2 separate regions of the Homo sapiens genome follow, and region 2 is linked to region 1. The links come from fine-mapping of genetic effects on gene expression. A gene starts in region 1. The other region holds a variant in brackets. All regions are shown on one strand. Distances are between the middles of the regions. Region 1 holds the start of ARFGEF3 (ARFGEF family member 3). Region 2 overlaps ARFGEF3 (ARFGEF family member 3).

Region 1 (15,247 bases):
AATATAATCTTTTAAAAATGCTGATCATAAATAGTTGTATAAACCATATTCAAATTAAATACTTTTTCACTCATCTAAATTTAATTCAAAATTGAATGTAATCCAAAAATATGCTTATTTTATTTTCTGATTATACTGCTGCATATTTGGGTATAATTTTATATTGCAAACAAGTTTCTTTACTACTGTATTCTGTGAATCAAGCATTAGAGTAAGTGAAAAGATTGACGATTTGAATATCAGGTAAAACAAGCATAACAGAGATTTGAGCTGGAAGTACAGATTTAGCATCATGAACCTAGGTGGTCAAGATCTGAAGCAATGGCAAATTCAGTAGATATTATCAGATATGAAAATTTTGTGGGATTGAGACTGCTTCCCAAGCATTCACAAATGGGGAACTACCTGGGTCCTCCACACTTCATAGAAGCCTTCTACACATCCTTAGTCAGCTCTCTTTCTTATTTTCGAATTTTGGGTCCTCTACCTGTTCATTTCTCCTCTTACATTCAGCATATGTCTTCTTGTTTCATAAGCAAAACAGAAGTCACCAGGTGTAGCTCCCACAAATTCCTGTCTCTACATCAACAACTAAACAATATAAAAAATCAGCTTTCTATCTTCATGCCCCACTCATATCCGTAAATTGGCCTTCATCCCCTAACTGGGCAATGACTCTGTCTATACTCTAGGTACCCTCTTTCCCATCTTCTTAGCATACTTGTTTCCCCCATTAGGCTGGCATCCTCCTGCCTTTTTTCAACCCTGCTTTTATGTCTTTTTTTCTTTCACTGTATAAATATACTCCCCACCACTAGGCTGTTTAATCACAAATTTTCCTCTGGTCTGGTGTTTTCCAAATTTCATGCTTCTCCCCATGAGTGGGTTGTGAAATTAATGAGTCTGTTTCATAAAAATATATTAAGAAATGAATTAGTATGGAACCTACAATATCAGAATGCAACACGTATATTCCTAGCAGGAGGTGTCCACATTGCCACAAATCCTGCAGACAACTGAGTTGAGTGACAGCTGGAGAATGAGAGGTAATGAATATATGCATTGGCTGGGAACTGCCAGCCAGTCACTCTTCTGCTCACTGGTGTCTCAGCTGATTTTTTGGAATTGATCATAATTGTATCAGGAGAGTTCATGTTTTATAGTTTCATTTTATGTCAATGTAATTTATAGCTAATTATAAAGTGAGGTTTAGAAGAACTTTATCTAGTCTTGGCAAAGGCAGGAAGACTTTCCACCAAGGTTTGGCTATGAGTTAGAAGATTTCAGTGTGCTTTTTGAATTAGGCATAACTGTCAGGCATTTTTCAACCTTGTGATAATTGTACATTTTAATCAAAGTTATACCAACTATCCTTAACACAGTTTATTTTATTATTAGAAGAAATAAAAACAGTCGTGTGAAAAACACAGAGGCATGTTCTGGCAGAACTACCAGATTTGGACATGTACATAGTGACAACATTAAGAAAAATGTCTTTTTAAATTAATAAATTCTATTATTTGAACTATAAGCCAAAGAAGTGCAAATCATTTTAATAATGATAAAGTATAGCTTGTCGATTACTCAAAACTCACTGAAAATGTATTATTTGTAATGACATTCTTGTAAATAAAAGCTTAAGATCTTCCAAAAAAATCACTTGAAATATAGCAAGCCAAATTTGTTCATAAGGCCTTCAAATATTTTCAAAGAAAAAAAGATGTAAATTTGTCAACATGATTTCACATTGGTTTTAATGAAAAAGCATTACTATCATAATTAGTCACATGTATGCAGCAAAAGGAAAAAAATTAAACAGCTCCTAAAAAAGTTGTTCTCAGCATACATGGTTATAGTGAATATGATTCTTGATAAATCAGCAGAGAAATTTAAAATTATACTTCTAAGTCATATTATAGTTCTAAAGAATATACAGAATAGAATTTATACTTATTAGGCACATACAGGCAGACACAGGTTGTATAATTCCACTTAATGAGAACACTAATATTTCACATTACTTAGACTTTAGTTTATGCCAAATATGTATGAAAATATGATTTTTATAAAGGATTTATTGTGTTGTTTCCATTTAACCTAACACAAAACTACTTGAGAAACATAAGTTCAACTGGAAAATTGTAACGGAATTGTGAGTGATTCAGAAGTAAATACGACCAGGAGACATGGAAAGATAATTTAAAATATTGTTAGAAGCTACTCTGTACATTATTTAAAATCTGTGTTTTATACATTACAAAGATTTTGCATCCTAACAATTGCACTAAATCTTTTGGACTTGAAAACAAAAGTAACGATAGTTGTTTAATTTTATTAAGGGAACCTTCAATTTTTGATATGTTTTGTTCAGAAATTGGATCTGTGGCTAATGATTCCCCTCCCTATGCCATAGGAAGAGAGCTGTGATTACTCAGGTATATCTCTGCAACTCTGTCTTCACCAATGCAATATATGAGATTTGTGTAACTTCTGCCTCTGAGGCATGGACTCCTCTACTCTCTTTTCCTCTTCCTATGGGCTAGAACACAATGTGCCTGGTACATATCTTTGAGACACACAAATGAGAACAACCCCCTATGGGATGAGGAAACAGTAACATTTAAGGTATATGGTCACTTAATCTCCTGGGACCTGCTGCACCAACCTCAACCACTGACTCAGGGTTTAATTGAAGAGAGAAGTAAGTGTCTATGCTTTGTAAACCACTGTATTGTTGGGTCTTTGTTAAAACAACTTAGCCTTTCCATCAAATAACATGTACATGTTGCATCGTACTGAAGTTATTGATTGTTACGAGGAAAGTACTCATTAAATTATATGAACTCAGGAACAGGATTCATATTTTCCTATTTGAAAAGCAATCTCATTTGGCATTTTGAAGATGATATTTCACCAGAAGAATCTGCATATAGGACTAATTTTTTTGACATTTTAAACTAACTGAATTTGGATCTACAGGGAAAAAGTAACAATATATTTCAAGATGTTTAATATATCCAACACTAACCAATACATTTTAAGTAATCACTGTGGTTACTATGTGTGCACAATTTTGTAACACATAAAGAGAAAATTAATGAAGACATTTTGAATAGAAAAATGATATTAGTTATATTACGTCTCTGTTATAAACTTTAATAATTTCAAAAAGAGAAATTTGAAATATTGAGGAAAAAATTGATAAAAGATCTGTTTTCCAAAATCCTGAATCCATATTAAAGTTGATACTCAAAGAAGAAAGCTAATCTCTAATACTTTAATACATTGAAGAATGATTATAAGTTTATAGCCATTTTAGATTAAGATTAAAGAAGACTTTCCATTGCTAAACAGAGTTCACTGTTGTTATTAATAGCATTCACAGCAACTTATTTGTGTGAGCCAGAATTTTTAAGCAACAAAACTAAAAACATTGGAAAGAAATAGGCATCACAGAGCAAACCACTGTGATTGTCCTCATGCCCGCAACCCAGAATGAATTTAGGAACAGGCAAGTATGCCTGCTGCAGTGAATGAAATCATGCTTAGTAGTAACTATTCTAGTTAACAGTATGTACTGTTTTATACCTAAAACTGTTGTTTCAGTTTTTTAACATATCTATACATGTATGTAAACACTGGATGATAATGTAAAGCATATTTTCTACTGTGAGTTATAGAAAAAAAGTAGAAAGGTGTTTACTTTCCTTCATAGCCATCCACTGGGTTGTTTATCCGTGTGATTTCACCAGCTCTTAATCCACTGCAACCAGGCTGCAGTCATCATTTCTCCCGGGTCTGGCTTCCACGGGATCCTAACTCTCTCACATTCATTACATCATTTTCTGTGTTTATCTTTGTCCTTTCTCTGGATGTTGACCTTGTTGCCTGGATACTACTTTTATTTCATTTTTGTGCCACTTTTTTTTTTAGAATAACACTTCTGATTATAAAAGTAAAAATATTTAATGAAAAATAAACTCACCTATAAGCCCATCAAAGATAATCACTTAATATTTTGTATGTACTTTTGATAGATATGTATGTACATATATGCATGTATTTTTGAACTTATATATACATCTACATCAAATATTTAAATAAAATTGGAATCATGTAGTATACAAAAGTACATAGCATTTTACAATTTGCTTACTTAAGTATATAGTATAAGCCACTTTTCTTTTTTTTTTTCTTTCTCTGTCTTTTTTTTTTTTTTTTTTTTTTTTTTTTTTTTTTTGAGACAGTGTCTTGCTCTGTCGCCCAGGCTGGAGCGCAGTGGCGAGATCTCAGCTCACTGCAACCTCTGCCTCAGGGTTCAAGCACTTCTTGTGCCTCAGCCTCTTGAGTAGCTGGGATTACAGGCATGTGCCACCACACCCGGCTAATTTTTGTATTTTTAGTAGAGGCAGGGGGGTTCTCACCATGTTGGCCAGGCTGGTCTCCAACTCCTGACCTCAGGCGATCCACCTGCCTTGGCATCTCAAAGTGCTGGGATTACAGGTGTGAGCCACTGCCCCCGACACCACTTTTCATATTATTCAATATTTCTCTCCCACATTATTCTTTTTAAATTAAAAACAATTTTTTTTTTTAGTAGAGATGAGGTCTTGCCATGTTGCCCAGGCTGCTCTCAAACTCCTCGGCTGAACCAATCTGCCTGCCTCAGCCTCCGAAAGTGCTGGGATTACAGGCATGAGCCAACATGCCTAGTCCCCCACATTATTCTCAAAGGCTATATAATATGATGCTTTATGAATATATCATGGGTTATCTATCCATATCCTTGTTGCATATTTAGTTTTCTCTTTTTTTAGAATTGAAAGACACACTGAAATGCTTGTAGAAAGATCCTTATCCATTTCCATAATCACTTTCTTAGGATGAATTCCCAGAAGTGGAATTGTTAGGTCAAAGCTATACCTATGCCACATACACATCCAGGCTCCCTCCCTCCAGGAATGTAGTACCAAGTTACACTCTGACCAGCACCCAAGACATGAGAGGACCTTGTTGTTCAGCTCCTTCAATAACATTTAAAAAATCTCTCAGTCAATTTGATTAATAGAAAATAGCATCTTATTTAAAAGTTTGTTCTCTTTATTAGGCACTTGAACATTTTTTATAAGTTTATGGGGTCATATGTATTCTCTCCTCTGTAAACTGACTTTATATATATTGGCTTTTTTAAAAAAGAAGGAGCATTTGTTTTTTAATTCTTTGTTAAAGCTTTTTTTTTTTAACAAAGCTATTCAAACTTTATATGTCTGACATTAATATAAACATTTTCCTAGTTTGCAGCTTAAACGAAATTGTTTTTAATTGTAAAACTAGTAAATACTTTAAAATAGATTCAAAAATATAAATCCACATATAATTAAGATTTAGAGGTATCATCTTTTCTTCCTTCAATCCATCCCTCAGAGTATCATTTGCTTTTTAATTTTGTATGAAACTTTTGGCATAAAGGTCTTAAATATTCAAATAGTCAAATCTATTGACCTTTTTTCCTTCAGTTTCTGCCTTAGTTTGTTAGAAATAATCTTAATGCATTAAGATAAGTATATTCACTTATGCTTTCTTCTAAACTTTTCATCATTTAATTCTTAAATTTAATTTTTAATACATTTGTAATTTATTTTGCTACACGATATAAAGTTGTGATCTATATATTTTTCCAAATAGTTAACAATTTTCTTTAACCCAAGTACATTATCTGCTGCGGCGTTTTTACTTTTTTTTTTTTAAACCTTTCTTTAAATGATGGCTTCACTGGGCGTGAGGGTAGCGGTAGAAGCATCCTTGGGGGCTGGGACTTTGTAGGTTTTGCCTCCTCAGTACCAAGAGCGCCGAAGGAGTAGTCTGACATCCCCATGTGTTGGACACCCTCCAATGGCAGTCCCTCCCCTGGCTGACCCCCTACACCTCGGATTTCGGACTGCTCCTCTCAGCCTCCTCCCTGGGCCCTTGCTCCTGTACCCATGATTTGAGAATTAGGGGGGCCGTCACTCCCTCTCTTGTGCAACCTTTGTCAAACTCGAGGCATCAACAACTCCTATATTTACCACCCTTCAAATACTGGCATCCCTCCCAGAGCTCTATCCTGAGTTCCTGTCCATAAAAAAAATCTACAAGTATCTCATTATCATTTCAATCTGAACATGTTCAAAACTGAACTCATATATCCCCCCTAATCCAAACCCTTTTTATCTTCTCTTCTTTAAAGAATGGGGCCACCATCCTCCCAATTTCCTAAACAAGTAACCTGGAAGCCATCCCATATACACCGTCTCTCCCCTATTGTGTCATTAAATCCTATTGTTTCTACCCTTCAATATCTCTTGACATACTTTCCTTTATTCCCCTTCTACCCACCCTTGGCCTAATTGGTTTCTAGATTCCTGCAGAACCTTTGTTCTCCCAGCTGCCAGTCTGCCCCTCTGCAGTCCATCATCCTCACTTCCACCACAGGAACATTTTCAAAGAAAAAGGAAACACGGGGTGCCCTGTCACACTGCCTTCCCCACCGCCCGCGTGAGTCTCCTGGGGCTCCCCCTTTTCACCCCAATGAGAAGCCCTCTGCTGCGGCGGCCCTTGTGCACCACATTTTTCACAGGGCAGCAATTCAGCGCAAGAGAGGATGGGAAGGGGAGGAGATAGGGGTTTTTAGAAGGGGCTTTGGATTCAGGACGTGTTTGGAGTCTAACTCTTGTTGGTCTGGGAAGTAACCCAGCCTCTCTGGGCCTGGTTTCCTTGGGCATATCAAGCTCTACCCCAGCCCCACCGCAGCCCACCGCCCGCCGCGTGTTGAAAGCTTGACTGGAGTTTCCCTGCAGGCAGGGGCACAGTGTGTGCAACGCTGCATCGCCCGAGCCTGGCACAGGGAGTGGCCCAAAAAAGCTGTTAGTGACTGAACGCAAGAATTTTCCGGTTAGCAGACGACGGGATGCAGCGGGCGCGGCGCCTGCACCACGCTGGGGGTCCCGGTGTCCGGGCTGGGCCGCTCCGACTCCGCCCGCGGCCACCGTCGGCTCAGGGGGTGCGAAGACCGCGGCGAGGCCCCTCCCCGCCTGCCTCCCGCCGCCCGCCGCGGACCAGGCGCTCCCTCCCGGCGGCTGGCGAGCCAGCTCCGGACATCCGTCCCCACCTTTCCGCTAAGCGCGGCGCCCGCGGGGCCTGCCTCGGCGGTCAGGTCAGCGGCCTCCAGCCTCACTCTCCGGCCCCAGCCCGCAGCCGCCGCCGAGCGGAGCGCACCTGACCCAGGCGGGCGGGGCGGGGCGGCGGGCGGGGCGCGGGGCTGACGTGGCCCGCGGCATGGAGCGGGCGTGATTCATCAGCATCCGCGCCGGGGCGGCATGGGGGCGCGCGCGGCGGCCGCCTAGGCGCCCAGGGCCAGGCAGCGGCGGCTTCCCCGGCCCGGCTCGCCCGCGCTTCTCTCCCTGTGGGCGGCGGCCCGGCGCCTGGAAGGTCAAGATGGAAGAAATCCTGAGGAAGCTGCAGAAGGAGGCGTCCGGGAGCAAGTACAAAGCCATCAAGGAGAGCTGCACCTGGGCCCTGGGTAAGCGTCCGGCACCTGCTCGCCGCGGCGGGAGGGCCGCGCGGCCGGGGCTGAACCCGCGCCTCCGCGCGTGGGGCTTTCGCGGAGCGTCGGTCATGGGTGCCGTTCTGGCGATTGCGAGAGTCGCCTCGGGAAATTGATGTGGGATTTGAGAGTCTTGGCTCGGGCGTGGACATCAGCCGCCTCCCCTCCGGTCTCTTTCACTCTCCGAAACCTTCCTCGGGAACCGCTGTCCTCCCTGCCTGGCGGCCCCCTTCTCCTGGTCCCGGCGCTGGGGACGATGCTTCCCCATCGCCGAGTTAGGCAGGACCCGGAGCCGGTGCGAATCCTGGGGCCTGACAGCGAAGCGCCTCTGGGGAAAAGGGAAGTTAAACCAACAACCCCGATGTCGAATCCTTGGCGAGTGGAACCAGGAAGGAAAGGCTTGTTTAATTTGATTTTCCTGATAGAGGTCAGCTTGCTTAGTGTTAGCTTTCCTGGTTATTGCACATGAAAAATAACATACGGGCGGGGATCATGTTACCTCTGCAATTCTGTTGTGGTCTGCCCTTCAGACAGGTGGGATTTTAGGGCTGTGAGCTGTGCTAGCGTTGAAGTAAGTTCCAGGGAGCAAATTTGTGTTTCTCATCAGACTCAGGTTGCAGAACTCAGCAGCGGAAAAAAACGGAAAGACATTTCAGTTAGGCGGGGTTTGGGCAATCAAAATGGTCAGGATGGTAATGCAAATAGATCAGAAGCATACTTTGGGTGATGGTGATGCTTTTTAGAAAGGAAAGGCCAAGAAGAAGCCAGCGCAGCTAGCTCTATGGGCTCCTCTCTCTGCCTTGCTGGAGCCTGATGTGATGCCTCAGTTGCCACTCAATTGAAAAATGAAATTGACTCCCTTTCCCTTGCAACCAAGAACCATCACTGTCTGTCATGACACTGTGTGTGCTTTGATGCAGCCTGAGATAGAGAAGAGCCTTTAGCAGGTTTTCCACTAAATGTAAAATTTTGAGAGTGGTTTAGGTGACTCTTAATATGTAGATGGTCTTAATTCACATATGTTTGGGTGTGTGTACAGGTAATTATAGCAGCATCTTTTTTTAAACCTGTGCCTATCATCACAAAATTGTCTAGAATATTGTCTAGGAAGTTTGTCTTGTAGGTAGAACCAGCACTTGACCATTCTAGCTTACTGTTAAAGAAAAATGGACCAGAAATCTGAGAGAACAGCAAGGCTCTTAAAGCCACAGTACTATTTTTGCCGTTGCCATTGTCATTCAGCAGCGTGATTCGAAGCTAGATTCCAAAATGCCTCTAATGAAGGGTCACAGATGGCTGGGTAACATGATAAAGCAGGGCCCAATTGTGCTTTAAACATGCCATTCCTAGTATTCGTTATTATTTTGCTGCAAATTAAGCAGATTTAGATAAACAGGGAGGAGGAGATTAATCTAGTATTTTAATAAGTTTAAATACTGACATCAACATCTTATTAAGTGAAACCACAACGTTGCTGAGTTTAGGTCCTTTAAAGCCACTGGGGAGGCTGAGCATTGAGGCAGGTAAATTTTTCGAGTCAAATCTGAAAGAAACCAGCCTGAGTGGATGTACTTCCTTTCCCAGTGATTGTTCTGTCATTAGCAAGACAAGACAGAAGTGCATGAAATAGTTAAATAATAGTGCAGGGCATTCATTGTGCAGTTGGATTGGGCAAACCAGGAAAACAAGTCAAAGAAGGGAGGATAAATGTGTTGTCCATGGATTGGGGGAGAATTGGTGTGAGCTGGTGGGGCTTTTGAAGTAGATTTCACTTGAAGAATGGGGAAGCTATGGGTTCCTTCTTTCCGTCGCTTCTTTATTTAGGAAACATTTATTAAGACCTCCCTGGTAATGAGCAATGGGATATATGGATGAATAAAATGTTCCCTGTAAGGAATTTGTTAGAAGGGCATGCTGGAGACATGAACAAAGGCCTATAGGGATAGGTTTTCCTGTTGCCTTTCCCACTCCAGTCCATTTCCACTGCCCGTCACTGTTTAGATTACAAAACACCTGTCACTCTTCAACCCCCCAATTTATTTCTAGATTAATGTGTAAATTCCTCAGAATGCTCTTCAGAATCTAGCCCCAGCCTCTGTTCTTGTCACTCCCCAACCAAGATTCAACAATCTAGTGGCAGTCAGCTGCAGCACTTTGTTGAACATGCTGTGTGGCACACTTCTCTCTTTGCCTTTGCTCTTGCTAGTCCTTCTGTAGGGAATTCCCTTTTCAGACTTGGCAAGGTCCATCTTGTTTAGGAAACATTCCCTGAGCTCCTCAATAGGATAAGTTGTTTGTCTGGGTTCAGATCCTTGCCTTGATGACTCTCTTAGAGTACCTACTATTTTGGATAATAGTTGATTGTGTGCACAGGTAGGCTCTTACGGGCAGTGTAATTGACAAATATGTTGGGTGCAAGAGACAAAAAAGCTAGTTTAAGCTGAGCTATACAAAACGGGATTTATTTACTCCTTTAACTAAAATACCCCTTACAAGAATAGCTGTGATTTAGGAATTAGACACTGTTTCAGGGATCTTGTCCTGCTCTTTGTGGGTTGACTGACATGCTCTGCGTGGGTCTCCACAGTTTTGGGCTCATGAATCAACACATTTAGACCATCTCATGAAAAGAGGCAACAATAAACTTAGACCATCTCAGGAAAACACGTCTCATCCCCCACTTAGACCATCATGTGATGGGGAGGTCAACCGCTACTTAGGTCATCATGGGAAAGGGGGGTTACCTCTCACGTAGACCCTCATGAGAGAGGGGTCATCCCCCACTTAGACCCTCATAGGAGCAAGGGGCCATCCCCTACTTAGACCATCATGGGAGAGAGGGGTCATCCTCACTTAGACCCTCATGGGAGAGAGGAAGCATCCCCCACTGAGACCCTCCTAGGAGAGAGAGGTCATCCCCCTCTGAGACCCTCATGAGAGAGAGGGGGCATCCCCGTCTGAGACCCTCATGAGAGAGAGAGGGCATCCCCCTCTGAGACCATTGTGCGAGACAGGGGTCATCCCCCACTTAGACCCTCATGGGAGAGAGGGGATATCCCCCTCTGAGACCCTCATGGGAGAGAGATCATCCTTGATTTAGACCCTCATAAGAGAGAGGGGCATCCGACACTGAGACCCTTGTGAGAGACAGGGATCATCCCCCTCTGAGACCCTCATAGGAGCAAGGGGTCATCCCCTACTTAGACCATCATGGGAGAGAGGGGTCATCCTCACTTAGACGCTCATGGGAGAGAGGGTCATTCCCCACTGAGACCCTCATGGGAGAGAGGGGGTCATCCCCCTCTGAGACCCACATGGGGGAGAGGGGCATCTCCCTCTGAGACCCTCATGAGAGAGAGGGGTCATCCCTCACTGAGACTGAGACCCTTATGGGAGGGAGGAGTCATTCCCCACTGAGACCCTCATGGGAGAGAGGGGTCATTTTCCTCTGAGACCCTCATGGGAGAGGGGTCATCCCTTACTTAGACCCTCAGGAGAGAGAGGGTCACTCCCCACTGAGACACTCATGAGAGACTGAGACTGAGACCCCCATAGGAGAGAGGGTCATCCGACTCTGAGACCCTCAAAGGAGAGAGGCATCATTCCTCACTCAGATCATTTTGAGATAGGTGATCATCACCATATTTAGACCATATCAAGAAAGCTGGACTTCTCCAGTCACTCCTGCCTGATCCTTGGTTTCCCTTGTTCTCTTTGTCCTGATGGTTCATGAGTGTATCCTTGAACCAGTCCTCTAGTCAAAGAATGAAGTAGAATAACTGGTTTAGGCCTAGGCTACAAGTTCCACTGAAATCCAGAGCTGGGGAAAAATGGCTTCCTGGAAGTAAAATTAAGATGCTTCTTCAAAAGCCAGGGGAATGGATACTCGTCAATCAAAACAATACATGTCAGCAGAGTAGTGAGCTCTTTAGCACAGGGACTGCCGTTTATGCTTCTTTGGTTGCTTCTGCACCTATAGTGGAAGGCAGATGTTCAATAAGTAAATCAATACTTTAACTACTTGTTTGAGTTTTAAATAATATTCATCTTTTTCTATTTATAAGAGTTATATATGTTCACTTTAGAATGTTGCAAATAATGGAACAACATAAAGAAAAAATTAAAATAATCTTCAGTCTCCCTATCCGGAGATAACACTGTTGACATTTTGGAGTCTTTCCCTTTGCAAAAGGTCATACCGCATATGGCATATTGTCATGTGTTTTTTAACTTTAGCATCTTCTTCTACTCTGTCTACTTTGTCATGACACTTCTCTGAAAATCAGTGTTAATGGCTGCAGAATAACTAATAAGGCATATGTATGTATCTTCTCTTTATTTAGTGTTATCTGGTTGGTTGTTTTTGTTAGTGAGGAATGGCGTGGCCAGGGAGTAGAAAGGAATGAATTGGATGAAGGGTTGGCTTGGGGAAAGGCAGAAAGAACTTCAGAAACTGGCAGTCCTGGGGGCTTGCAAGCTAGGCTGTGGTGGGATGAAATAGAATTGCAGAACAGGAGAGCTGGAAGCAACCAAGCCCTACTTTTAGTATTTTATATCTATCAGGGGCCTTATACAGAATGAATGTGGAAAATGGAGGAGCGGGGAAAGAAACTAGAGGTACGAAGGCCAAGTAGGGGAAGAGGGAACATCTATCCAACCAGCACCCTTCTCTCTATCTACCCATCTGCTTTTTCTTCCAGCCACAGGTGATTACTTCACAGCCAAACTTCTTAAAAAGTGTAGAAATTGTATCTGTGTTCTCACCTTCTACTCTGTCTTCATCTTTTTGTCATCTGCCTTTCACCTCCATCATCCCACCAACTCACAGTTACTGAAGAACAGTAACATACAGCCATTCGGCTGGCAGACCATTCTCATTCCCATCTCAGAGGTCCTCCTGGTGACACTGGACACAACTGGGCACCTGCTTTACCTTGACTTCTATGATCACACCCTACCAGCTCCATCTTGGTTCTTGAGCCATTCTGTCTCCTTTGCTAGTGCCAGATTCTGTCCCCAGCTGTAAATATTTGAGTTTCTCAAGGGTTAGCTTTGAGCCCTCATCTCTTACTCCCAGCTCTTCTGGAGTTGAACACACACATACCCACAGCTTCAGCTCCATTTCTGAGAATGTGATGCCCGTGTTTATATCACTAGTCGACACCAGTGCTCTGAAACGCACACCCCGCAACTTAGCTACCTGCTGAACATCTCCACCTGAATGGCTTGCAGGCACTCAGCTCAACAAGGCTCAAAGTGACTGTGTGTTCTTCCCCACCTCTACCTCACTGCCCAACCTCACTCACCTCTGGTGTTTCTAAATGATCAGTTGATGTCATCACCTGTCCAGTTGCATTGACCTGAAATCTAGAGTCATCCTTGATACATTTCTGTAATTTGCCATCTTACCTAGTCCGTCACCCAAGCTCTGCTCATTTTTACCTCCTAAATATATGTCAAGCCTGTTCACTTCTTTCTACCTCTGTTGCCAGCTCTCCAGAATAAGCTGCCTTCTCTTTTTATCTGAACTTCTGCAACACCCTCTTAACTGCTCCTTCCTTGTCTGCTCTAGTTCTTTTTCCCAAGTAGTGTCACCTTGGAAACCCCAATCTTTTCATGACATGCCATGTTAAAACACTGAATAGCATCCCATTAGGATAAAAACAAAAGTCCTTGGTGTGTTCTGTCCAGCCGTACATGGCCTGGCTCCTACCTGCCCCACAGCCTTGTGCTATGCCACCCTCATGAGACAGAGGGTCATCCCCCTCTGAGACCCTCATGAGAGAGAGGGGTCCTTGCTCTCTGAATTTCAGCCACACTGATCTTCTTTCAGTTACTCAGCTACACTGTGCTCCCTCTTACTTCATTAATTCAGCAAATATTTAGTGAGTACCTACTATGTGCCAGGTACTGTTCCAAGTGTTAGGGATAACATGGTGAGCAAAACATGCAAAAAGATCCAAGAGTTTACAGATTCTTGGAGAGATGACAGCCAGTAATCAAGATAAATAAATAAAATACACATGACAGCAAAGAGAGTGATAAGAGCTAAGAAAGGGAAAACATAAAATAGTGAAGAAGATAGGAGGTACTTGGAATAAAGAGGGAGTTGCCATTTAAATAGGGTATTCACGGAAAACCTTACTAAAAGGGAGGCTCCTAGTTGGGAAAACATCTGATGGCTTTGGGAAAGAGCAAGGAGCCAGGGGGCTGGAGCGACGGGAGAGAAGTAGGAAGTGAGGACCAGATCATGAAAGTCCTTGTTGGGCTCTCTAAGGATGAGATGGGGAGTCATTTGGGGTGGAGGAAATGCTCTCATCTGGGTCTTGACAGGGTCTCTCAGGATACTGTGTTAAGCAGAGACTGCAGCTTCAGGGGCAAGCCCAAAAGCTAAAAGCCTAGAACAGAGGCTGGTACAGTCATCCAAGTGAGAGAAGGTGACAGCTTGGACCAAAGTGGCAGGACAGAGTCAGGGAAGATGTTGAGATTCTCCAAGCATTTCAAACTTATTATTCCCTCCACTCGGAGTGACCTCTCCTTATCTACTTTAAATAAATCATTTGTGGTCTCATTACCCCCAGCAGGAAGCCCTGACCTCACAGTCCACAGTAGGACCTCCTGTTCCACTTTTGCCTAATTCCCTGTATTTTCCTTCCTGGCGTTTATCATGCTTTGAAATGAGAATGTGCACTCCATGAATTCATGGATCGTGTCTGTTCTCACCACTGGGTCCCTAGCCCAGGACCTGGTTCAGTGTTTAGTGAGAGATCAAAGAAGGGAGACAGGAATTGGCACTGGCGTCTAAGGACTGTGTCAGGCCCTTTATGATCATGATCCTATCAGCTCCTCACAAGCATCCCGGGAGGAAGGTGTCATTGTCTTCTTTCTAAAGATGAGGGAACTGAAACTTACAGAGGATAAGTGACCTGCCCCCATCCCACAGTGTCACAAGCTGGAGTGGAGCTGGGAGTGGAACCTGGTTCTCTTTGCTTTCCTTCTTGATGCTTCCATGGTGCCCTCTCCCCAGCTACCATTCTGTCCTGGGTGCTTACAGCAAAGCTGCAGGCCATTTTCTCCTTGACCTTTGGATGCTCTTCGCCTTGGGTTCCACACTGATCCCATGTGCCTGGGAGTCTCACTGCACTTAGAGCTGTAGTTTCATGGTGGCTGCTGTGTGACAGCCTTTTCTCTTTTCCTTTTCTTCTAGCTTGCTCTTAGCCTTATAGAGCTGGGCACTGTTACCCAGCCTTGGTTGACTATATATCCCTCTGTCCTGCGGGAAAACCATGCTGATCTGGTTGTTCACTGTCACTGCCTTTCCTTGGGGAGCAGCATCGGCTCATCCTGGGTGCCAGTCCCTGCTGTGCTAACTGGTGGGCTGCACTGGCCTGTGTGGCCTTTGAGCTGCTTCCTGTACCTGCATCTCAGGGCTTCCCTTTCTTGTCATCCTGTCTCATCTTAAGCATTGACTTCAGTCCTTCATCTTCCTCCATTGGCCTTGTCTTCACAGAACCAAGAACCCTGCTGAACTCATCTTTCTGTTTTGCTGATTAATTGTCTTTCTGAAATCCACTCTTTTGCCCCACTGGCCATATCAAGCCCAGATCCTATCAGGCCTGTTCTTAGCCTTGAGTCTCTGATATATGTATATATTTCACATTTGTT
Region 2 (15,247 bases), 130 kb after region 1:
GAGAAATGGCTGATTTTTAACTTGATGAAATCAGTGAGTCGGTGAAGCTGATGATTATCTGGATCTAAGGGAAAAGAATGACCATCCTGGTAGCAACAGAAGATACAAGGCAGGCAGCAAACAAAAGGAAAAATGCCAGCTTGGTCCAAATTGTGTAACTACTATCAGATATGTACAGTAACAAGTCACTGAGTCAGCTGTACATTTTTAGCTGAGAAACACAATTTAGGTCCGTGTTTCTCAGACTTGAATAAAATTTAGAGACCCATTTGAAAACAAAATCGCTCTCACAGATCCCCAGCGTTAACTGAAAAAGGAGTCTCACAATTTTACTTAAGTATTTTACAACCATGAACTACATAAAAATCCTTACATTCACAGTTCTTTAAAAAAAAAACCACAAAACCAAGACCACGATATTCAGATTAAAAACAAATAAAAAATAAGATTAAGGCCGGGCACAGTGGCTTACGCCTGTAATCCCAGTACTTTGAGAGGTCGAGGAAAGCGGATCACTTGAGCCCAGGAGTTCAAGACCAGCCTGGGCAACATAGCAAAACCCTGTCTCTACTAAAAATACAGAAATTAGCCAGGCATGGTGGCATGTGCCTGTAGTCCCAGCTACTCGGGAGGCTGAGGTGGGAGGATCACCTGAGCCTGGGGAGGTTCAGGCTGCAGTGAGCAATAATCATTCCATTGCACTCTAGCCTGGGTGACAGAGTGAGACCCTATCTCAAAAAAATAGATAAAACAGCCAGGCGCAGTGGCTTACACTTGTAATCCCAGCACTTTGGGAGGCTAAGGTGGGCGGATCATTTGAGGTCAGGAGTTTGAGACCAGCCTGGCCAACATGGTGAAAGAAACCCCGTCTCTACTAAAAAATACAAAAATTAGCTGGGCGTGGTGGTGGGTGCCTGTAATCCCAGCTACTTCAGAGGCTGAGGCAGGACAATTGCTTGAACCTGGGAGAGGTTGCAGTGAACCAAGATGAAGCCACTGCACTCCAGCCTGGGTAACAGAGTGAGACACCATCTCAAATAAATAAATAAAATTAGTATCACATTTATGAGACAAATGATGTTTTGCTAAAAATCACTTTGCTCCTTACATTAGGAGATGGTTTGGATTCCTTTGAGGTTGGCTTGCTATATTTCTGGGTTCTGGACCATCACTTAGTTATCCTACCACATGCAATGACTTGAAACCTTTGTTCAAGGAGGACACTGTGGTTTGGCCTTGCCTTAGCATTTTGCATTACTGACATCTGAAGTCACCTTCTGCATTCTTTCTCATTAGTCATCTACAATTTTTTTTTTCTTTTGAGACCGAGTTTCACTCTTGTTGCCCAGGCTGGAGAGCAATGGCACCATCTCGGCTTACTGCAATCTCCGCCTCCCAGGTTCAAGCTATTCTCCTGCCCCAGCCTCCTGAGTAGCTGGGATTACAGGCATGTGCCACCATGCCCGGCTAATTTTGTATTTTCAGTAGAGACAGAGTTTCTCCATGTTGTTCAGGCTGGTCTCGAACTCCCAACCTCTGGTGATCCACCTGCCTTGGCCTCCCAATGTGCTGGGATTACAGATGTGAGCCACCACACCCAGGCTACAATTTTTTAAAGTATTATTTGGAGCTCACAAATACAAACTCAAGGGATGAAATGAAATTGGTCATTTTCAGTGATAGAGCAGTCATTCTGGTGCTCAAAATATACGTAAATAAGTTGTTTTAGAGATGATGATCATAATGAGAGCCTAACATTACAATAATCTCAGAGAAAACTTGCAGAAAGCCAGGAATTCTTCCATTTGACCAATTTTTGGGAAGGGTGAAAGGTCTGGGCCCAGATGGTTTTAGCTGGAATTGGCTCATGAAACCCATCCACACTGCTGTGCCTGACCCAGAGCCCATGAAAGGGCCTGGAAGGAATGGCACCTGCCAGCTCAGGATCCATCCCACTTCTGGAGCTGGAGAGCTGGGGCCACCAGCACGTGGGACCTGCTGGCTGGGTGGTTTGCATGATGGTCCGCAAGGACCTACTGTGGAGGTGCTTGCTGCCACTGAAGTCTGTCCTTTCCCTTTTGCCCTTGCATGACACACATTCTTTCATTTTCATTCTTTCTGTCTCCCTTACTCAACCTGTTATTTTAATAAATGTCTTTCTGGCACAGTGAAACTAAAAGTGGAGCAGAAACTGGAGCAGATTGGGAAGGTGCAGGGGGTGTGGCTGCACACTGCCCACGTCTTGTGCATGGAGGCCATCCTCAGCGTAGGCCTGGAGATGGGAAGCCACAACCCGGACTGCTGGCCACACGTGTTCAGGTGCATGACGGGCTCCCACCCCCAGATGGCACTAACCCTGCCTTGGGAAACCTGGAGTGGGCTGTGGCAGGTGGAGAGGGGTGGCCTTAAGAGCCTGCCAGCATGTAAATCAATTATAACAATTCACAGAGTTTGATTAAACTTCAAATGAGACGTGAAAAGAGAAGAGGGAATAAGGGCCCAACTGAATGTATGTTTTGAAGAACAGGGGACAGAACTGGGTCTGAGGAATTGTGACTTTTCTATTGACATTTTTATGAGAGAAGGAAGGAAGAAAAACCAATTAAATAATTGATTGAGATGACTAAGTGAATACTGTGCAAATCTAAAACTGGTCATGTCTCCTCAATATTACATTGCTATATGTTTATCAATGTCCTCTTTACTTAAAGAAGGATTTCAGATAGCTTATTTGCATACATAAAATACAAGATACCTACTTTTAATTTAGCTAGACTGAAACAAAACAAAACAAAACAAAAAATCGTACACCTCTGCCAAAGACAGGCCAAAAATTTAGCTCTAAGCATTGTAGCATCAAAGTGAAAAGAAACTCCCAGTGAGTTATATAGTGCACAGTGCCTGTAAGATGAAAACCAGCAATAGCTCCAGAGTCCAAGTCCTCTTACAACTAAGACTGAAAGCACGTCTCCCCAAGCATTGCATCAGGACAGACCCAGTACCGTGGAAGGAGCACTGCCCATGGAACAGGGCGGGGGCTGGCCACACTGTTCCTTCTCCTTCTCTGCAGCACATGCCTCACACTCACTCCAAACCCAGGTCTAGGCAGAGCAGGCATGGGGCAAGAGTGGCCAGGGCAATGGCCAATGGCCCAGGGCACCAGCCAGAGCTGGGTTCAGTTTCACGTCTTCAAAGCAAATATAGCCATGAGTGTTTGTTGAGCAAAATGGTTCTATTATGAAGGCTGCTGACCTGCTGCTCTTTATTGCTCTAACAAGAAAAGAAAAGAAAAAAGAAAATAAAAAGGCTCTCCTGGTACACAAGCAGCGGGTAAGGGATTGAAAAATTCCTTGATTCTAGAACATCAGAGTGGATTATCCATGATGCTCTTTACCAGTAAACAGACTTACTCCGAGATGAGGGACCTTGCGAACCATCTTCGTCCCAGGTTCTGTTGGGAACAAACCATTTAGGAGTTGGCAGTTGTAGCACATGTGGTGACCCTTCTCTGTGTCTGCCATAATTCGGTGACTGCCCTCCCACCCGGCCGCCACCCACCCCACCCAGACTTGAGTTATGTGGCGCCGTCGGGACCAGGCAGGACGTGGCTGGGCAGAACCCACTGTGGCTAGTTGGCCTCTCCGTCATAGGTATAGCCATTCTGGGATCCCATCGTAGGGAAACGCTTCCCAACTCCTAATCAGAGCACTATATGGAGGGAAAGAGGGTGCCTGGGGAAAAATGGCTCAAACAGCAGGAGGGCAGATAAGCCAGTAAGCCGGATGAGGCAGGGGGACTGGATGAACTGGGCTTCATTGCCCGTCTTTCTCCCAGCCTGGGGTGGGAGAACCCAAATAATCCTTTACCCATTTCAAGGCTGTCTGGTCCAACTCAAATACTACTAATAATAATGCTGTGTGACATGAGAACACAGGAGGGAAGGACTGACTGTCATCACAGGAAAGAGGAAAGCTGGGGAGCTTGCAGAGCTGGCTGCATTTCCTTTGTCTGGCACTGTGGGGTTTATGGAGCTGCCGGGGTGAGCTGCAGCGCCTAACAGCTGCTTGTCTGTGCTCTTTCTAGGGTGTGTGAATACGTGGGCACCCTGGAGCACAACCACTTCAGCGATGGTGCCTCGCAGCCCCCTCTGACCATCAGCCAGCCCCAGAAGGCCACTGGAAGCGCTGGCCTCCTTGGGGACCCCGAGTGTGAGGGCTCGCCCCCCGAGCACAGCCCGGAGCAGGGGCGCTCCCTGAGCACGGCCCCTGTCGTCCAGCCCCTGTCCATCCAGGACCTCGTCCGGGAAGGCAGCCGGGGTCGGGCCTCCGACTTCCGCGGCGGGAGCCTCATGAGCGGGAGCAGCGCGGCCAAGGTGGTGCTCACCCTCTCCACGCAAGCCGACAGGTGCGCGGCGCCGGCCTCCCACGCCCCGGGAGCCTGCTTACCAGGCGACACCCACATCCATCTGGTTTCAGTCATGCCAGGGACGACCCATTTGTTAGCCAATCACTTAAATCTCTTCCATCTTTTTCAAGCTTAGTTCTCTCTACCATTACATCCATACTTGGAATGAAACGTTTTCTACTAACACTGGAGGGTCTGAGGTAGGCCACCTGGGGTCAAAGCGCTGCGCTTACTCTGGGATCTCAGGCAACCTCACCTCCCTGGGCCCTGCCTGGCTTCTCCATTGGTAAAATAGGGTCATTTTTTAAAAGTAATTCTGTCACCGTGTAGTTGTGAGGGTAAATTAATTAGTAACTTGATGCACCTGGAGCGGAGCTTGGAAAATGGTAAAAATCCTCTATTATGATTATGGCTGTTTTCAAAAATCCCACATGCATGTGTTACTTATTGATGCCCAACAACCATGCGAGGGTGAAGAGGGAAAATCACCAATCGCCTCAACTGTTTGGTGGTACTTCCTGAGGTTGAAAGTGCTTTTGGTCACCAATCACACACAGTTCCACCTCACTTACCTCTTCAGTGTTTGGTCACTGTGTCCCAGACCCCCGGCACGGGCACAGGGAGGACCGTCAGGAAGGGGACAGGAGTGGGAGGAGCACTCCCTGGGCCAGGACTCAGATTGACCTGAGTTCCTGTCCTGACTTTGCACTCCCCAGCTGCCGGGTCATGTCTGTAGACATAGCTGCACTGAGGCTCAATTTCTCCAACTACTAACCCACTACCATAATTGCTTTTTGCTGCTTATCCAAGTTGGCTGTGAAAATGTTTTAGAATCTGGAAAGTAATATACAGGTGTCAGGTGGAATATAATATTCATCACTGTTTTCTTACTAGGAAGGAGGGAGGAGAAATGGTCAATAGGACCCAGAAACCAAATGGTATCAAAATTGGAAGTTACAAAATAGCAAGAAAAATATATTTGTTTCAATAATTTATAAATGTTTAATCCGCTAATTCCCATCTTAAAACTTGCGTGTCTCATTTTCCTCTTTCAAGAAGGACTCATGATTCCATTTCTATTAGAGACCCTCTCCCTGAAGCAGCTCATGGTGCCCCCACAGCACTGTTTGCCCTGCGGTGTCACTAGGCTTGGAGGGCAGATAGCAGGGTGACCCAAGAGCCATGGAAGGCTCACCTGGCACATTGCTCGTTGTGGCCTCATAAAACAGATATTTGATCTTTACCATTCTTCATTCCCGTGACCTTCAAATCCTCCCCTAAATTCTGCTACTGTGCTCCCCGCCTTCCTAAATCCTTCTGCTGGCAAGGTCTGTGCCCAGCTGAGTGGGAAAGAAAAAGAACCTGTAAGACCCATCATATTGGGGAACATTCTTTCTTCCAAATAGATACTTGAGTTCCCATCACATCCAGGCCTTTGGGTGTGTATGAGGCCAGTCCCCGCCCTGGAGGGGGGCTTACAGGATCTACTCTTAGCTGTTTTTGTATCTTTTCCAGCATTATACTCATAAATTATAGACAAACAAAACCTTATTCATTAATTTACTGGGGTTTTTTGACATCATTTATGAAATTGAAGCTAATTCTGAAGATTCCATTCCCAGTTACTCAGTTTCTGGGAACAACGCCTTGCCATCTTTCAGCTTCTTGCCAAGCATTTTATGAGTGCCTACCATAGCGGAGCTAGACCATGAGGGCACAAAGATATTTTTAAATATATTCTTTGTGCCTTTGAATTAAAATCTCACAGTTAGAGCAGACTTGTACACAGTTAGAATAGATAGAATAATACCATACATTTGTCTACAGTGTTTACACAGCATTTCCATTAATCACATCAACAAAATTACCATAATCATTCTGCCATAAAGACCTTGCTGAATTGTTTCCAAAGAACACATCTCTTTCTGTTTGCATCCAGGCTCTTTGAAGATGCTAC[G/A]GATAAGTTGAACCTCATGGCCTTGGGAGGTTTTCTTTACCAGCTGAAGAAAGCATCGCAGTCTCAGCTTTTCCATTCTGTTACAGATACAGTTGATTACTCTCTGGCAATGCCAGGTAATTCTTTCCCTGAATAAACCATATGCCAGGAAGTTAGCAGGAAACAGCCCAGGCCTCTATCACCAGCAGCGTGCCTGAAGATTTGACTCCACATTCCCATTGCTTACACTCACACAAGCTAAGCCCAAGTATAGATTTGTCTCCAGATTTTGAGGCATCCTGTGTGAGGGGTGGTGTAACTCTTTGTGAATGGAAACGTTGCTGCTACCACATCTATAAGAACTCCCACTGGAGCTGGACTAGGTTGTTCTGCTAAGTTTTGTGCTTGTGGTAGAAATTGTGTGGCTCCTTAGGGTGCAGATAGCTTCCTTCACATGAGGGTGGAGCTTTTCTGCGTATCACAAACCACACCACACACCTCTGTCCAGCCAGTGGGACAGAGGTGGTTTGTGATATGCAGAAGCAACCACTAATTCCAAAAGGGGTGGTGAAAGAGGAAACTGCCTACCACTCTTGCAAAACTGATCTCAGAGGCATATCCCATTAATGATGGGTCAGTATCCCTGTTGTCTCCAATGAGGCCAGGTGAAGAAATAAGGCCCTCTTGAAGGCCAGTCTTGTGGAAGACAAAGTAGAGTTGTTCTGAATTGTCCAAGGGTCCCAAAGCATTGGCAGGTTGCTCATAGATGGAATTGTTCATCAAGAGCACAAGTGGTTGTCCTGAAACAGTGAGCACCTTGTCCCAGATGAGTTCAGGCAGAGACCGGGAGCCATGTGCTGGGGATGCACCTTAGTGACATGTTGGACTGCATAACCTCTGAGGTCCCTTCTATCCTTAGGAATCTAAAGTTCTAAGTGTAGTATATTTGATTTTTTCACCCTTGCTGCAGATTTAGATTTGAGAACCACAGTTGTTTCCCCACTAGTTTTTAATAGACTTTAAAACCTGAGCTATATAAAGCCAACCTCCCAGGCCCATAAGACTTTCAGAGAATCTCTGAGCCTGGGGGTAACCTTCAAAGTCTTTCGCATTGGAGAAAACAGTAGACTCTGAGCTTACAAAGAACACAATGAGCAGGGGCCAGGAAGGGTCGGTAAATCTAGAAAGAGGGAGACTTACTTCGGAATCAATCAGGTAGGAATATAAAATGCAGCCTCCAACACTCACCAGCCACAGCATCTGAGGCAAGTCATATCACCTTTCAGACATTCAATTTTCTACTCTGTAAAATAGCAATAATTATATTTTCTTCTTAAAAGAAAATATAGGCCAGGTGTGGCAGCTCATGCCTATAATCCCAGCACTTTAGGAGGCCGAGGCGGGCAGATCACCTGAGGTCAGGAGTTCGAGACAAGCCTGACCAATATGGTGAAACCCTGTCTCTACTAAAAATGCAAAAAAAAAAAAAAATTAGCCGGGTGTCATGGCATGTGCCTGTAGCCCCAGCTACTCGGGAGGCTGAGACAGGAGAATTGCTTGAACCCGGGAGGTGGAGGTTGCAGTGAGCTGAGATTGCACCACTGCACTCCAGCCTGGGCGACAGAGTGAGACTCCCTCAAAAAAAAAAAAAGAAAGAAAGAAAATATAATTGCTTTAAAAATTAAAGTTATTAAAGACTTACAGAACCAACACAGTGTCTGATGCAGGGTAAACATCCATGATTATTACAGGTTGAGTATCCCTAATCCAAAAATCCAAAATCCAAAACTTTTTAAGCACTGGCATGATGCCACAAGTGGAAAGTTCCACACCTGACCTCATGTGATAGGTCACACTGGAAATGCAGGCATGCAACACAGTTTATTGAGGGTCCCCAAGGGGTACAAAAATTGCCTTCAGGCTGTGTGTAAAGGTATATATGAAACAGAAATGAATTTTGTGTTTAGACTTGGGTCACATCCCCAGTAGGAAGCAGAGGAGAGGCAATAGGACATGAGCAGGGAGAGAGCGGGGAAGATGAAGGTTGTCACCTTCTTTGCCAAGAAGGTGGCAAACCCCGCCCCCCATAGTTTCTCACCCTAGTTCAAGATTAGGGCACCAAGAGAGCCCCGCCCTCTTGGCAAAGAAGTAGCCCAAGATCAGGGTAGGCAAGGATGGTACTAAAACAAGACAGAGAAGGCCAGACAGCATGTTACTGAGCAGCAGGGGGACCAGGCCTGCTTGGCAAAGGCTGCAGAGGTTTATTAAGGATTGGCAAAGTAGATGATGACAGTGAAAGGTGACAGTAACAAGAGTAATAATAATAGCTAAAAATGTTGGTCAGTTACTATGTGCTGGGCCCATGCTGAGCACTTTATGCGTATTATCACGTTTAATCTTTAAAGCAATTTTAGGAGTGGGCAGTATTATCCCCAGGTTTACAGATGAGATCATTAAAGAGGAAAATCTTTGGCCCAGTATAACACAACTACTAAATGGTGCCAGGATTCGAATCCAGACGGTCGGACTTCTCGGCCCTCCTACTGAACCGCTACCTCATTCCCTCTTATCATCAAGTTTTGATCATACCTGTCACGTCCCAGGTACCGGGGCTACAGTGGTGAGTGAGAGGACGATGCAGGCCTTGCTAAGTGAACCACCACATCCTTCTTGAATCCAGGGCTCCCTCCTCCCTTGGTTAGCCAATATCGAATTACCCTACTGGTCCTACCTAGATTTTCAACCTCTCTCTTTGCTTGAATAGGTCAGACTATGTCTGAGTTTTGGCTTTCTGGCATTTATGTTCTTGCCTTCCTGTAGGAGAAGTTAAATCCACTCAAGACCGAAAAAGCGCCCTCCACCTGTTCCGCCTGGGGAATGCCATGCTGAGGATTGTGCGGAGCAAAGCACGGCCCCTGCTCCACGTGATGCGCTGCTGGAGCCTTGTGGCCCCACACCTGGTGGAGGTGAGCACTGGGAAGGTGGGAAGAGGCTGGAACTGCTAAGTCAGTGACCAGCAGAGCCAGCATGGGGGCCTGCAGTCATGTATGGGGGCAAAGCACTGTGGCCATTGGGCAGTGGGAACTTGCCTATCACCTGGTCACAAACATCACTGTTTTCTGGTTATACCTCATGGCATCTAAAGAATCACCCCAAAGGGCAGTACTACCCTAGTCTCACTCTGACCCTCTTTCTTTGCAATTGTACAGCTCAGCTAGTTTTCATTTTTATGATCTGGTATCAACCTGAGCCTGGAACAGAAAGACTGTGGATGGTTCCTAATAGCTTTATTTTTATACATAAATATAACAATGTCTTTGGTTCCTACCAGTCCCTGTTTTCTAATAGCTAAATATACTCAGGACAGTGTCCTTTCAGTCAGGGAACCCTATGTCTTGGTTTTCCCAACAAAATTAATACTAAGACCCTTTCACTCTCCAAAGGAAAGCAGTTCGTGTGATCAGTTTTATGGCAGCTCTACATCTAAGCATCTCAATACATGAGGACTGGCCACTTCCAAGTTGACAGGGAAAACTGTTGCCCTGCTTTGCAGTGATAACTATTCTTAATAGCCCTTTTGCTTTTATCTGGTAGAGATAAATCATAAAATATTTCTTGGAACTTAAATTACTAACCTGAGAACATTCTAGTAAGCAAAATGGGTAGAAAATAGCAATGTAGTCATGGGGAAAAAGTCTATCAGTTATCTTTTACTCTACAATAAGGCCTCCCCAACATCTAGTGGCTTAAAACAACAACCATTTATTTAGCTCATGATTCCATGAGTCAGAAATTTGAGGTAGGCTTCTCTGGGTAGTTCTGGTGTTGGCCAGGGGTGGCAGATCTCACTGGCTTTAATTGTGTATCTATGGTCAGCTGGTGCAAAGTCTGGGGCCAGATGGTTCATGATGACCTTAACTGGGAAGGCTAGACAAATAGGTCTCTCTTTTCATGGTCTCTCATGTAGACTAGACTCCAGCAGACCAGCCCCAGCTTGTTCACGTGGCATTCTTAGGGTTCCAAAGAGCAACAACAGGGCAAACCCCAAATCACAAGTACTTTTTAATTCTGTTCTTACATGATGTTTGCTTGTGTTCCACTGGCCAAAGCAACTCACACATCCAAGCCCAGGGCCAGTACAGGAAAGGATTACTCAAGAGCATGGATACCAGGAGGTCTGTAAACCAATTAGAGCTACTGTGGCAATTTGTCCCTCACCTCACTGAGGGACAAATGACTCATCTGATCTTCCTACATGTGGGGCACAGCTCAGATGAAACTGTGAGCCATTCCTAGACTGGGTTCTGGTGTCTTTACAGTGAGCATGTTCTGTACCATTCAAGAAAACTGTCATGTTACAGAAAAAGAAATTACCGGAAACTTTCCTTTTTCTAGAAACATTAACATGAAATTGAGGTTGTACCTGATAAGCTGGTTGAATTGTTAAAAATGCAATTTAGTATGCAGTTTGTTTAGACTTATCCCTTAGAATGTTTTGATTTTAACAGAATTGCTGCTTCCACCTCCTTGTAATGAGGTGGGGTAGGAAAGCCTTCAGAAACCATTCTCACTGTCTGCTGTCCTGATGGTGAGCCACTCTCTCGTGAATTTTGCAGGCTGCTTGCCATAAGGAAAGACATGTGTCTCAGAAGGCTGTTTCCTTCATCCATGACATACTGACAGAAGTCCTCACTGACTGGAATGAGCCACCTCATTTTCACTTCAATGAAGCACTCTTCCGACCTTTCGAGCGCATTATGCAGCTGGAATTGTGTGATGAGGACGTCCAAGACCAGGTCAGTGTGACATGGTCATCAGCGTCATAGCTGGCTCTTACTGAGTGCAGTGGCAGGCACGGTTCTATGAGCTTCGCACACTTACTCTTTCCAATAATCCTATGTGGAATCTGTAACGGAGAAGTTAAGCAGGGCTGGGCGTGGTGGCTCACACCTGTAATCCCAGCACTTTGGGAGGCCAAGGTGGGCGGATCACGAGGTCAGGAGTTCAAGGCCAGCCTGACCAACATGGTGAAACCCCGTCTCTACTAAAAATACAAAAGTTAGCCAGGTGTGGTGTTGCACGCCTGTAACCCCAGCTACTCAGGAGGCTAAGGCAGGAGAATCGCTTGAACCAGGGAGGCAGAGGTTGCAGTGAGCCCAGATCAATCACGCCACTGCACTCCAGCCTGAGTGACAGAGCGAGACTCTGTAAAAAAAAAAAAAAAAAAAAAAAAAACAGAAAAGTTAAGCAATTTGACTAGACACATAATCAGTGATTGGTGGAGCTGGGATTTGAAACTAGGCAATTAAAAAAAAAACAGAAAAGTTTAGCAATTTGACTAAGGATACATAATCAGTGATTGGTGGAGCTGGGCTTTGAACCTAGGCAATCTGCTGGCCTATCTCTTTATACCTGGCCTATATTCCTAACTGCTGCCATACTGTCTACTGAAGGCAAGGTAAAGAAACTAACTGGAGACTTCGTATTTCACACGATGGTGGGCTAGAAATACAGGATCTCTCTCTCTGAAGTCCACCAAAAACGTTGAATAGAGGTTTAAACATTTCTTTTAAATACCTTGACACACTGGCAAGAAAGTAAGGAAGCCCCAAAACTGAGTGCCAATGGGAAGCCAGAGAAGTAAGCGGAGCCCTTAGGCTGGTTTTCCCGCGAGGGAATTTGCTAGCAAGTGGAGCAGAAGTTCTGGTCATCCCAGACGTGAGTGCACAGAAACAGAAAACAAATCTCAACGCAAACTTTACAAAGCTGGTGTTCAATCAGGCCAAGGTTGAATTAAAACAAACTTCCTGAGGATACTATCAGCTTGTTTCTAACATTGGCTCTTAATGGAAAGTTTTTTAAAAAGAGCACTCCAGGATTTATTATTACAACCTAGCCCTTTTATGTGATCTGTATATGAAATTACACCACCTCAGGATCTGAGAAAATACACAGGCACCATACAGAAGCAACAAAACTCCCCCGAGAGAAACTCATGTCAACTCAGGCTACAAAAGAATCCCACAAATAAAGTTTCAAGGTACGTGAGCTCTCAGTATTTTTAAAAAAGTCACAAAACACACAAGAAAACAAGGCAACGGAGAGAACTGATAAAACAACAGATAGTACAACTAGAACTATAAAGAATTGGATTGAAATATTGGTATCTTCCATGCAAAATATTAAATCACAAAGCCTAGTAAGTTTAAGGAAATAAAGGATTGAAATTATAAGTTAACACCTAAAGACTAGATTGTTAACACTTAAGATAAGTTAACACCTAGGTAACACCTATAGTTATCTCCTAGATAGTTAACACCTAGAAGTTAACACCTAAACGTTAGATCATTAACATCTAAGATAAGTTAACCTAGATAGGTTAACACCTAAGACTTTATACCAATAAGAGTGAACTAGGTAATTCAGATCAACTTTCTCACAGGGAACAACTAAAAAAAGTTGGATAAAAAAAATTTTAATCACTCGAAGACACTGACATACTATAGGGCAGTGAAGAACTACAAGGCCAAGATCTGGGAGAAAAAGAATACCCAGAGTAGTCTTCCTGGTATTTGAGGCTGTTTTTCCTAAAAATAGAATCTACTAATTTAAAAAAAGGAAGATATTGGGTTGGTGTAAAAGTAATTGTGATTTTTGCCATCACAGCAAAAACCGCAATTACTTTTGCACCAACATAATAAAAGACGGGGAAGCTCAGCAAAATTGCAGTCTGGGACCTCCCAAGTCTGGTAACTTCCTCGCATCTTGAGTCAGGATCTTGAGGCAAAAGGGACATCTTAGAAAGAAAGGTGAACCTTAAATAGATTAGTCATAAGAGAAAATAAACCCAACTTCAAATAATCCCAATCCCTGACATGAGATTAAGGTAATCTGAGATTTCTAGTGCCTTTCTGACAGAAGATTACATCATTCTATTAATAATCTTCAAATTATTTCTTGATTTGCAGGTGCAACGTTTGCATTCAATAAAAAATAACCAGGCTCATTAGGAAATAACATGTCATTGAAAACAAAAGTTTAAAAAACAAACAATAAACACACACAGGAACCCAGATATCAGAGTTATCAGAGACAGATTTTAAAATAACAGTGCTTAAATGTGTTTAGGAAGCTTAAGGACAGAAGCAGCTTTGGCTATGGTAACATGAAGAAGTTAGGTTAACCTTCCCCGCAAAAATCAAGCATAAAACAGGACAGGACAAAATTGTCCAAAGCAACCATCTGAGGGGTCTGGAAATTGACCAAAAGCAGACAACAAATTGAGTAGCATTTATTCTTAAAAACAGTGTTTGCTAGAACTTTGGTTAAGAATAGTGGGAGTCTGACTTCCTTGACAAAGACTGAAGCCATCACCTTTACTCCCAAGCTCTATTGGCAAGAATAGTAGTTTGACCAGCGTGAGGCTGACTGAGACAATCATCAGCTTTTCTACCATCAGGGACAGACTTGGTATGGAGAAGAGTGGGGAGAAGACCATTGGCTTGTCAATTACAAGTGATGAATTCATGGAGAAATGAACAGGGGAATCCTCAATCTTGCTTGCCTAAAGTTTGTAGTGAGTAGTGTACTAGCAAGAAATCTAACATAAGATCCTGGATATCAGAGATTCATAGAGGGACCAGATAGTCTGTTCACACATCCCTGGATGACTGAAACATGGGCATGTACAGGGGAGATTGTAAAGATCTCATCAGAAAATAAAAGGGAGATAAAAACTGGCTGAACTTTGAATATTCTGGCCAACCTTCTCACACAGATTGATTGCCAGAGGGTAGGAACCTTAAAGACTCAAGGTGTTTGAGCATAGTTTCCACCCACATGATCAGCTGACTACTAAGCTATGCAGACATGAGGATGAACACTAGGGAGTCAGGCTAAAAAATAAAAATGAAGAACAAAAACTGAGCAGACACATGAGCGCCATGGGAAGAGACAGATTCCATAGACTTAGTCTGTGGAATTCCAAGCACCTTAGTCTGGGGGGAAAAAAACCCTCAAAAATAAATTAGAATCCAGCACTGCTACAATATATTATCTAAAATGTCTAATTCTCAAAAATATGAGTGATGCAAAGAAACAGGAAACAGTGAAACACAGAGGAAAAAACAGTGACTAGAAACTGACTTAAGAGTAAGCCCAGATGTATTTGGGAGCCAGAGCCTTCAAAGTAGCTATTAAATATGTTCGAAAAAATTAAGGGAAAATATGACAATGACTCAAAAATAAGGACTCTAAATATAGAAATGGGAGCTATAAAAATGTAAATTTTAGAGTTGAGAAGGGCAATAACTGAAATGAAAAATTAGCTATACGGGCTTACCAGAAAGAGATGGCAGAAGAAAGATCAGTGAACATGGAAATAGATTAATAGAGATTATCTATTCTGAAGATCAGACAAAACTAAGTTTGACCAAAAATAAACAAAGCCTCAGAGATTTGTAGAACAATGTCAAGCATACCAACATACCTGTAATGGGAGTCCCAGGTAGAAAAGAGAAAGACAAACAGATGGGAAAATATATTTAAAGAAATAGTGGAACCCCAATTAAGATCAACACAAAGATATCTACAATAGACACGTTATAGTCAAAATGCTCGATGACAATGACAAAACCTTAAAAGCTGCAAGAGAAAGACTACATTACTACAGAGGAACTAATGCTAGGATTAATGCTAGGATTAACTAATGCTGACTTCTTCAGAAAGAATGAAGGCTAGAAGACAATGTAATGACATATTTAAAGTGCTGGAAGAAAAACTGTCAATGGATAATCCTAGAGAAATTACTCTTCAAAAATGAAGATGACATAAAAACATTCTCAGATAAACACAAATTTGGAGAATATCTTGCCAGTAGACCTGTTCTACAAGAAATACTAAATTCCT

The links. PIP is the estimated chance that this variant, and not a neighbour inherited with it, causes the effect.
Region 2: its variant is fine-mapped to the expression of ARFGEF3 in nasal epithelium (TOPMed, PIP above 0.99).

What each region holds. Positions count from the first base shown.
Region 1 is chr6:138,154,614-138,169,860 of GRCh38, forward strand. ARFGEF3 (ARFGEF family member 3) reads left to right here and starts at 7,326. Exons shown (of 34, transcript NM_020340.5): 1 at 7,326-7,558. The coding sequence starts at 7,474. RefSeq lists an enhancer at 7,135-8,105 and a silencer at 7,199-7,428.
Region 2 is chr6:138,287,650-138,302,896 of GRCh38, forward strand. It overlaps ARFGEF3 (ARFGEF family member 3), which reads left to right. Exons shown (of 34, transcript NM_020340.5): 18 at 2,169-2,319; 19 at 4,084-4,404; 20 at 6,344-6,477; 21 at 9,161-9,306; 22 at 10,957-11,136. Among named protein-coding and RNA genes, the nearest start is that of PBOV1, 77 kb to the left of the region's middle. The variant G/A (reference allele first, on the strand shown) is at 6,362.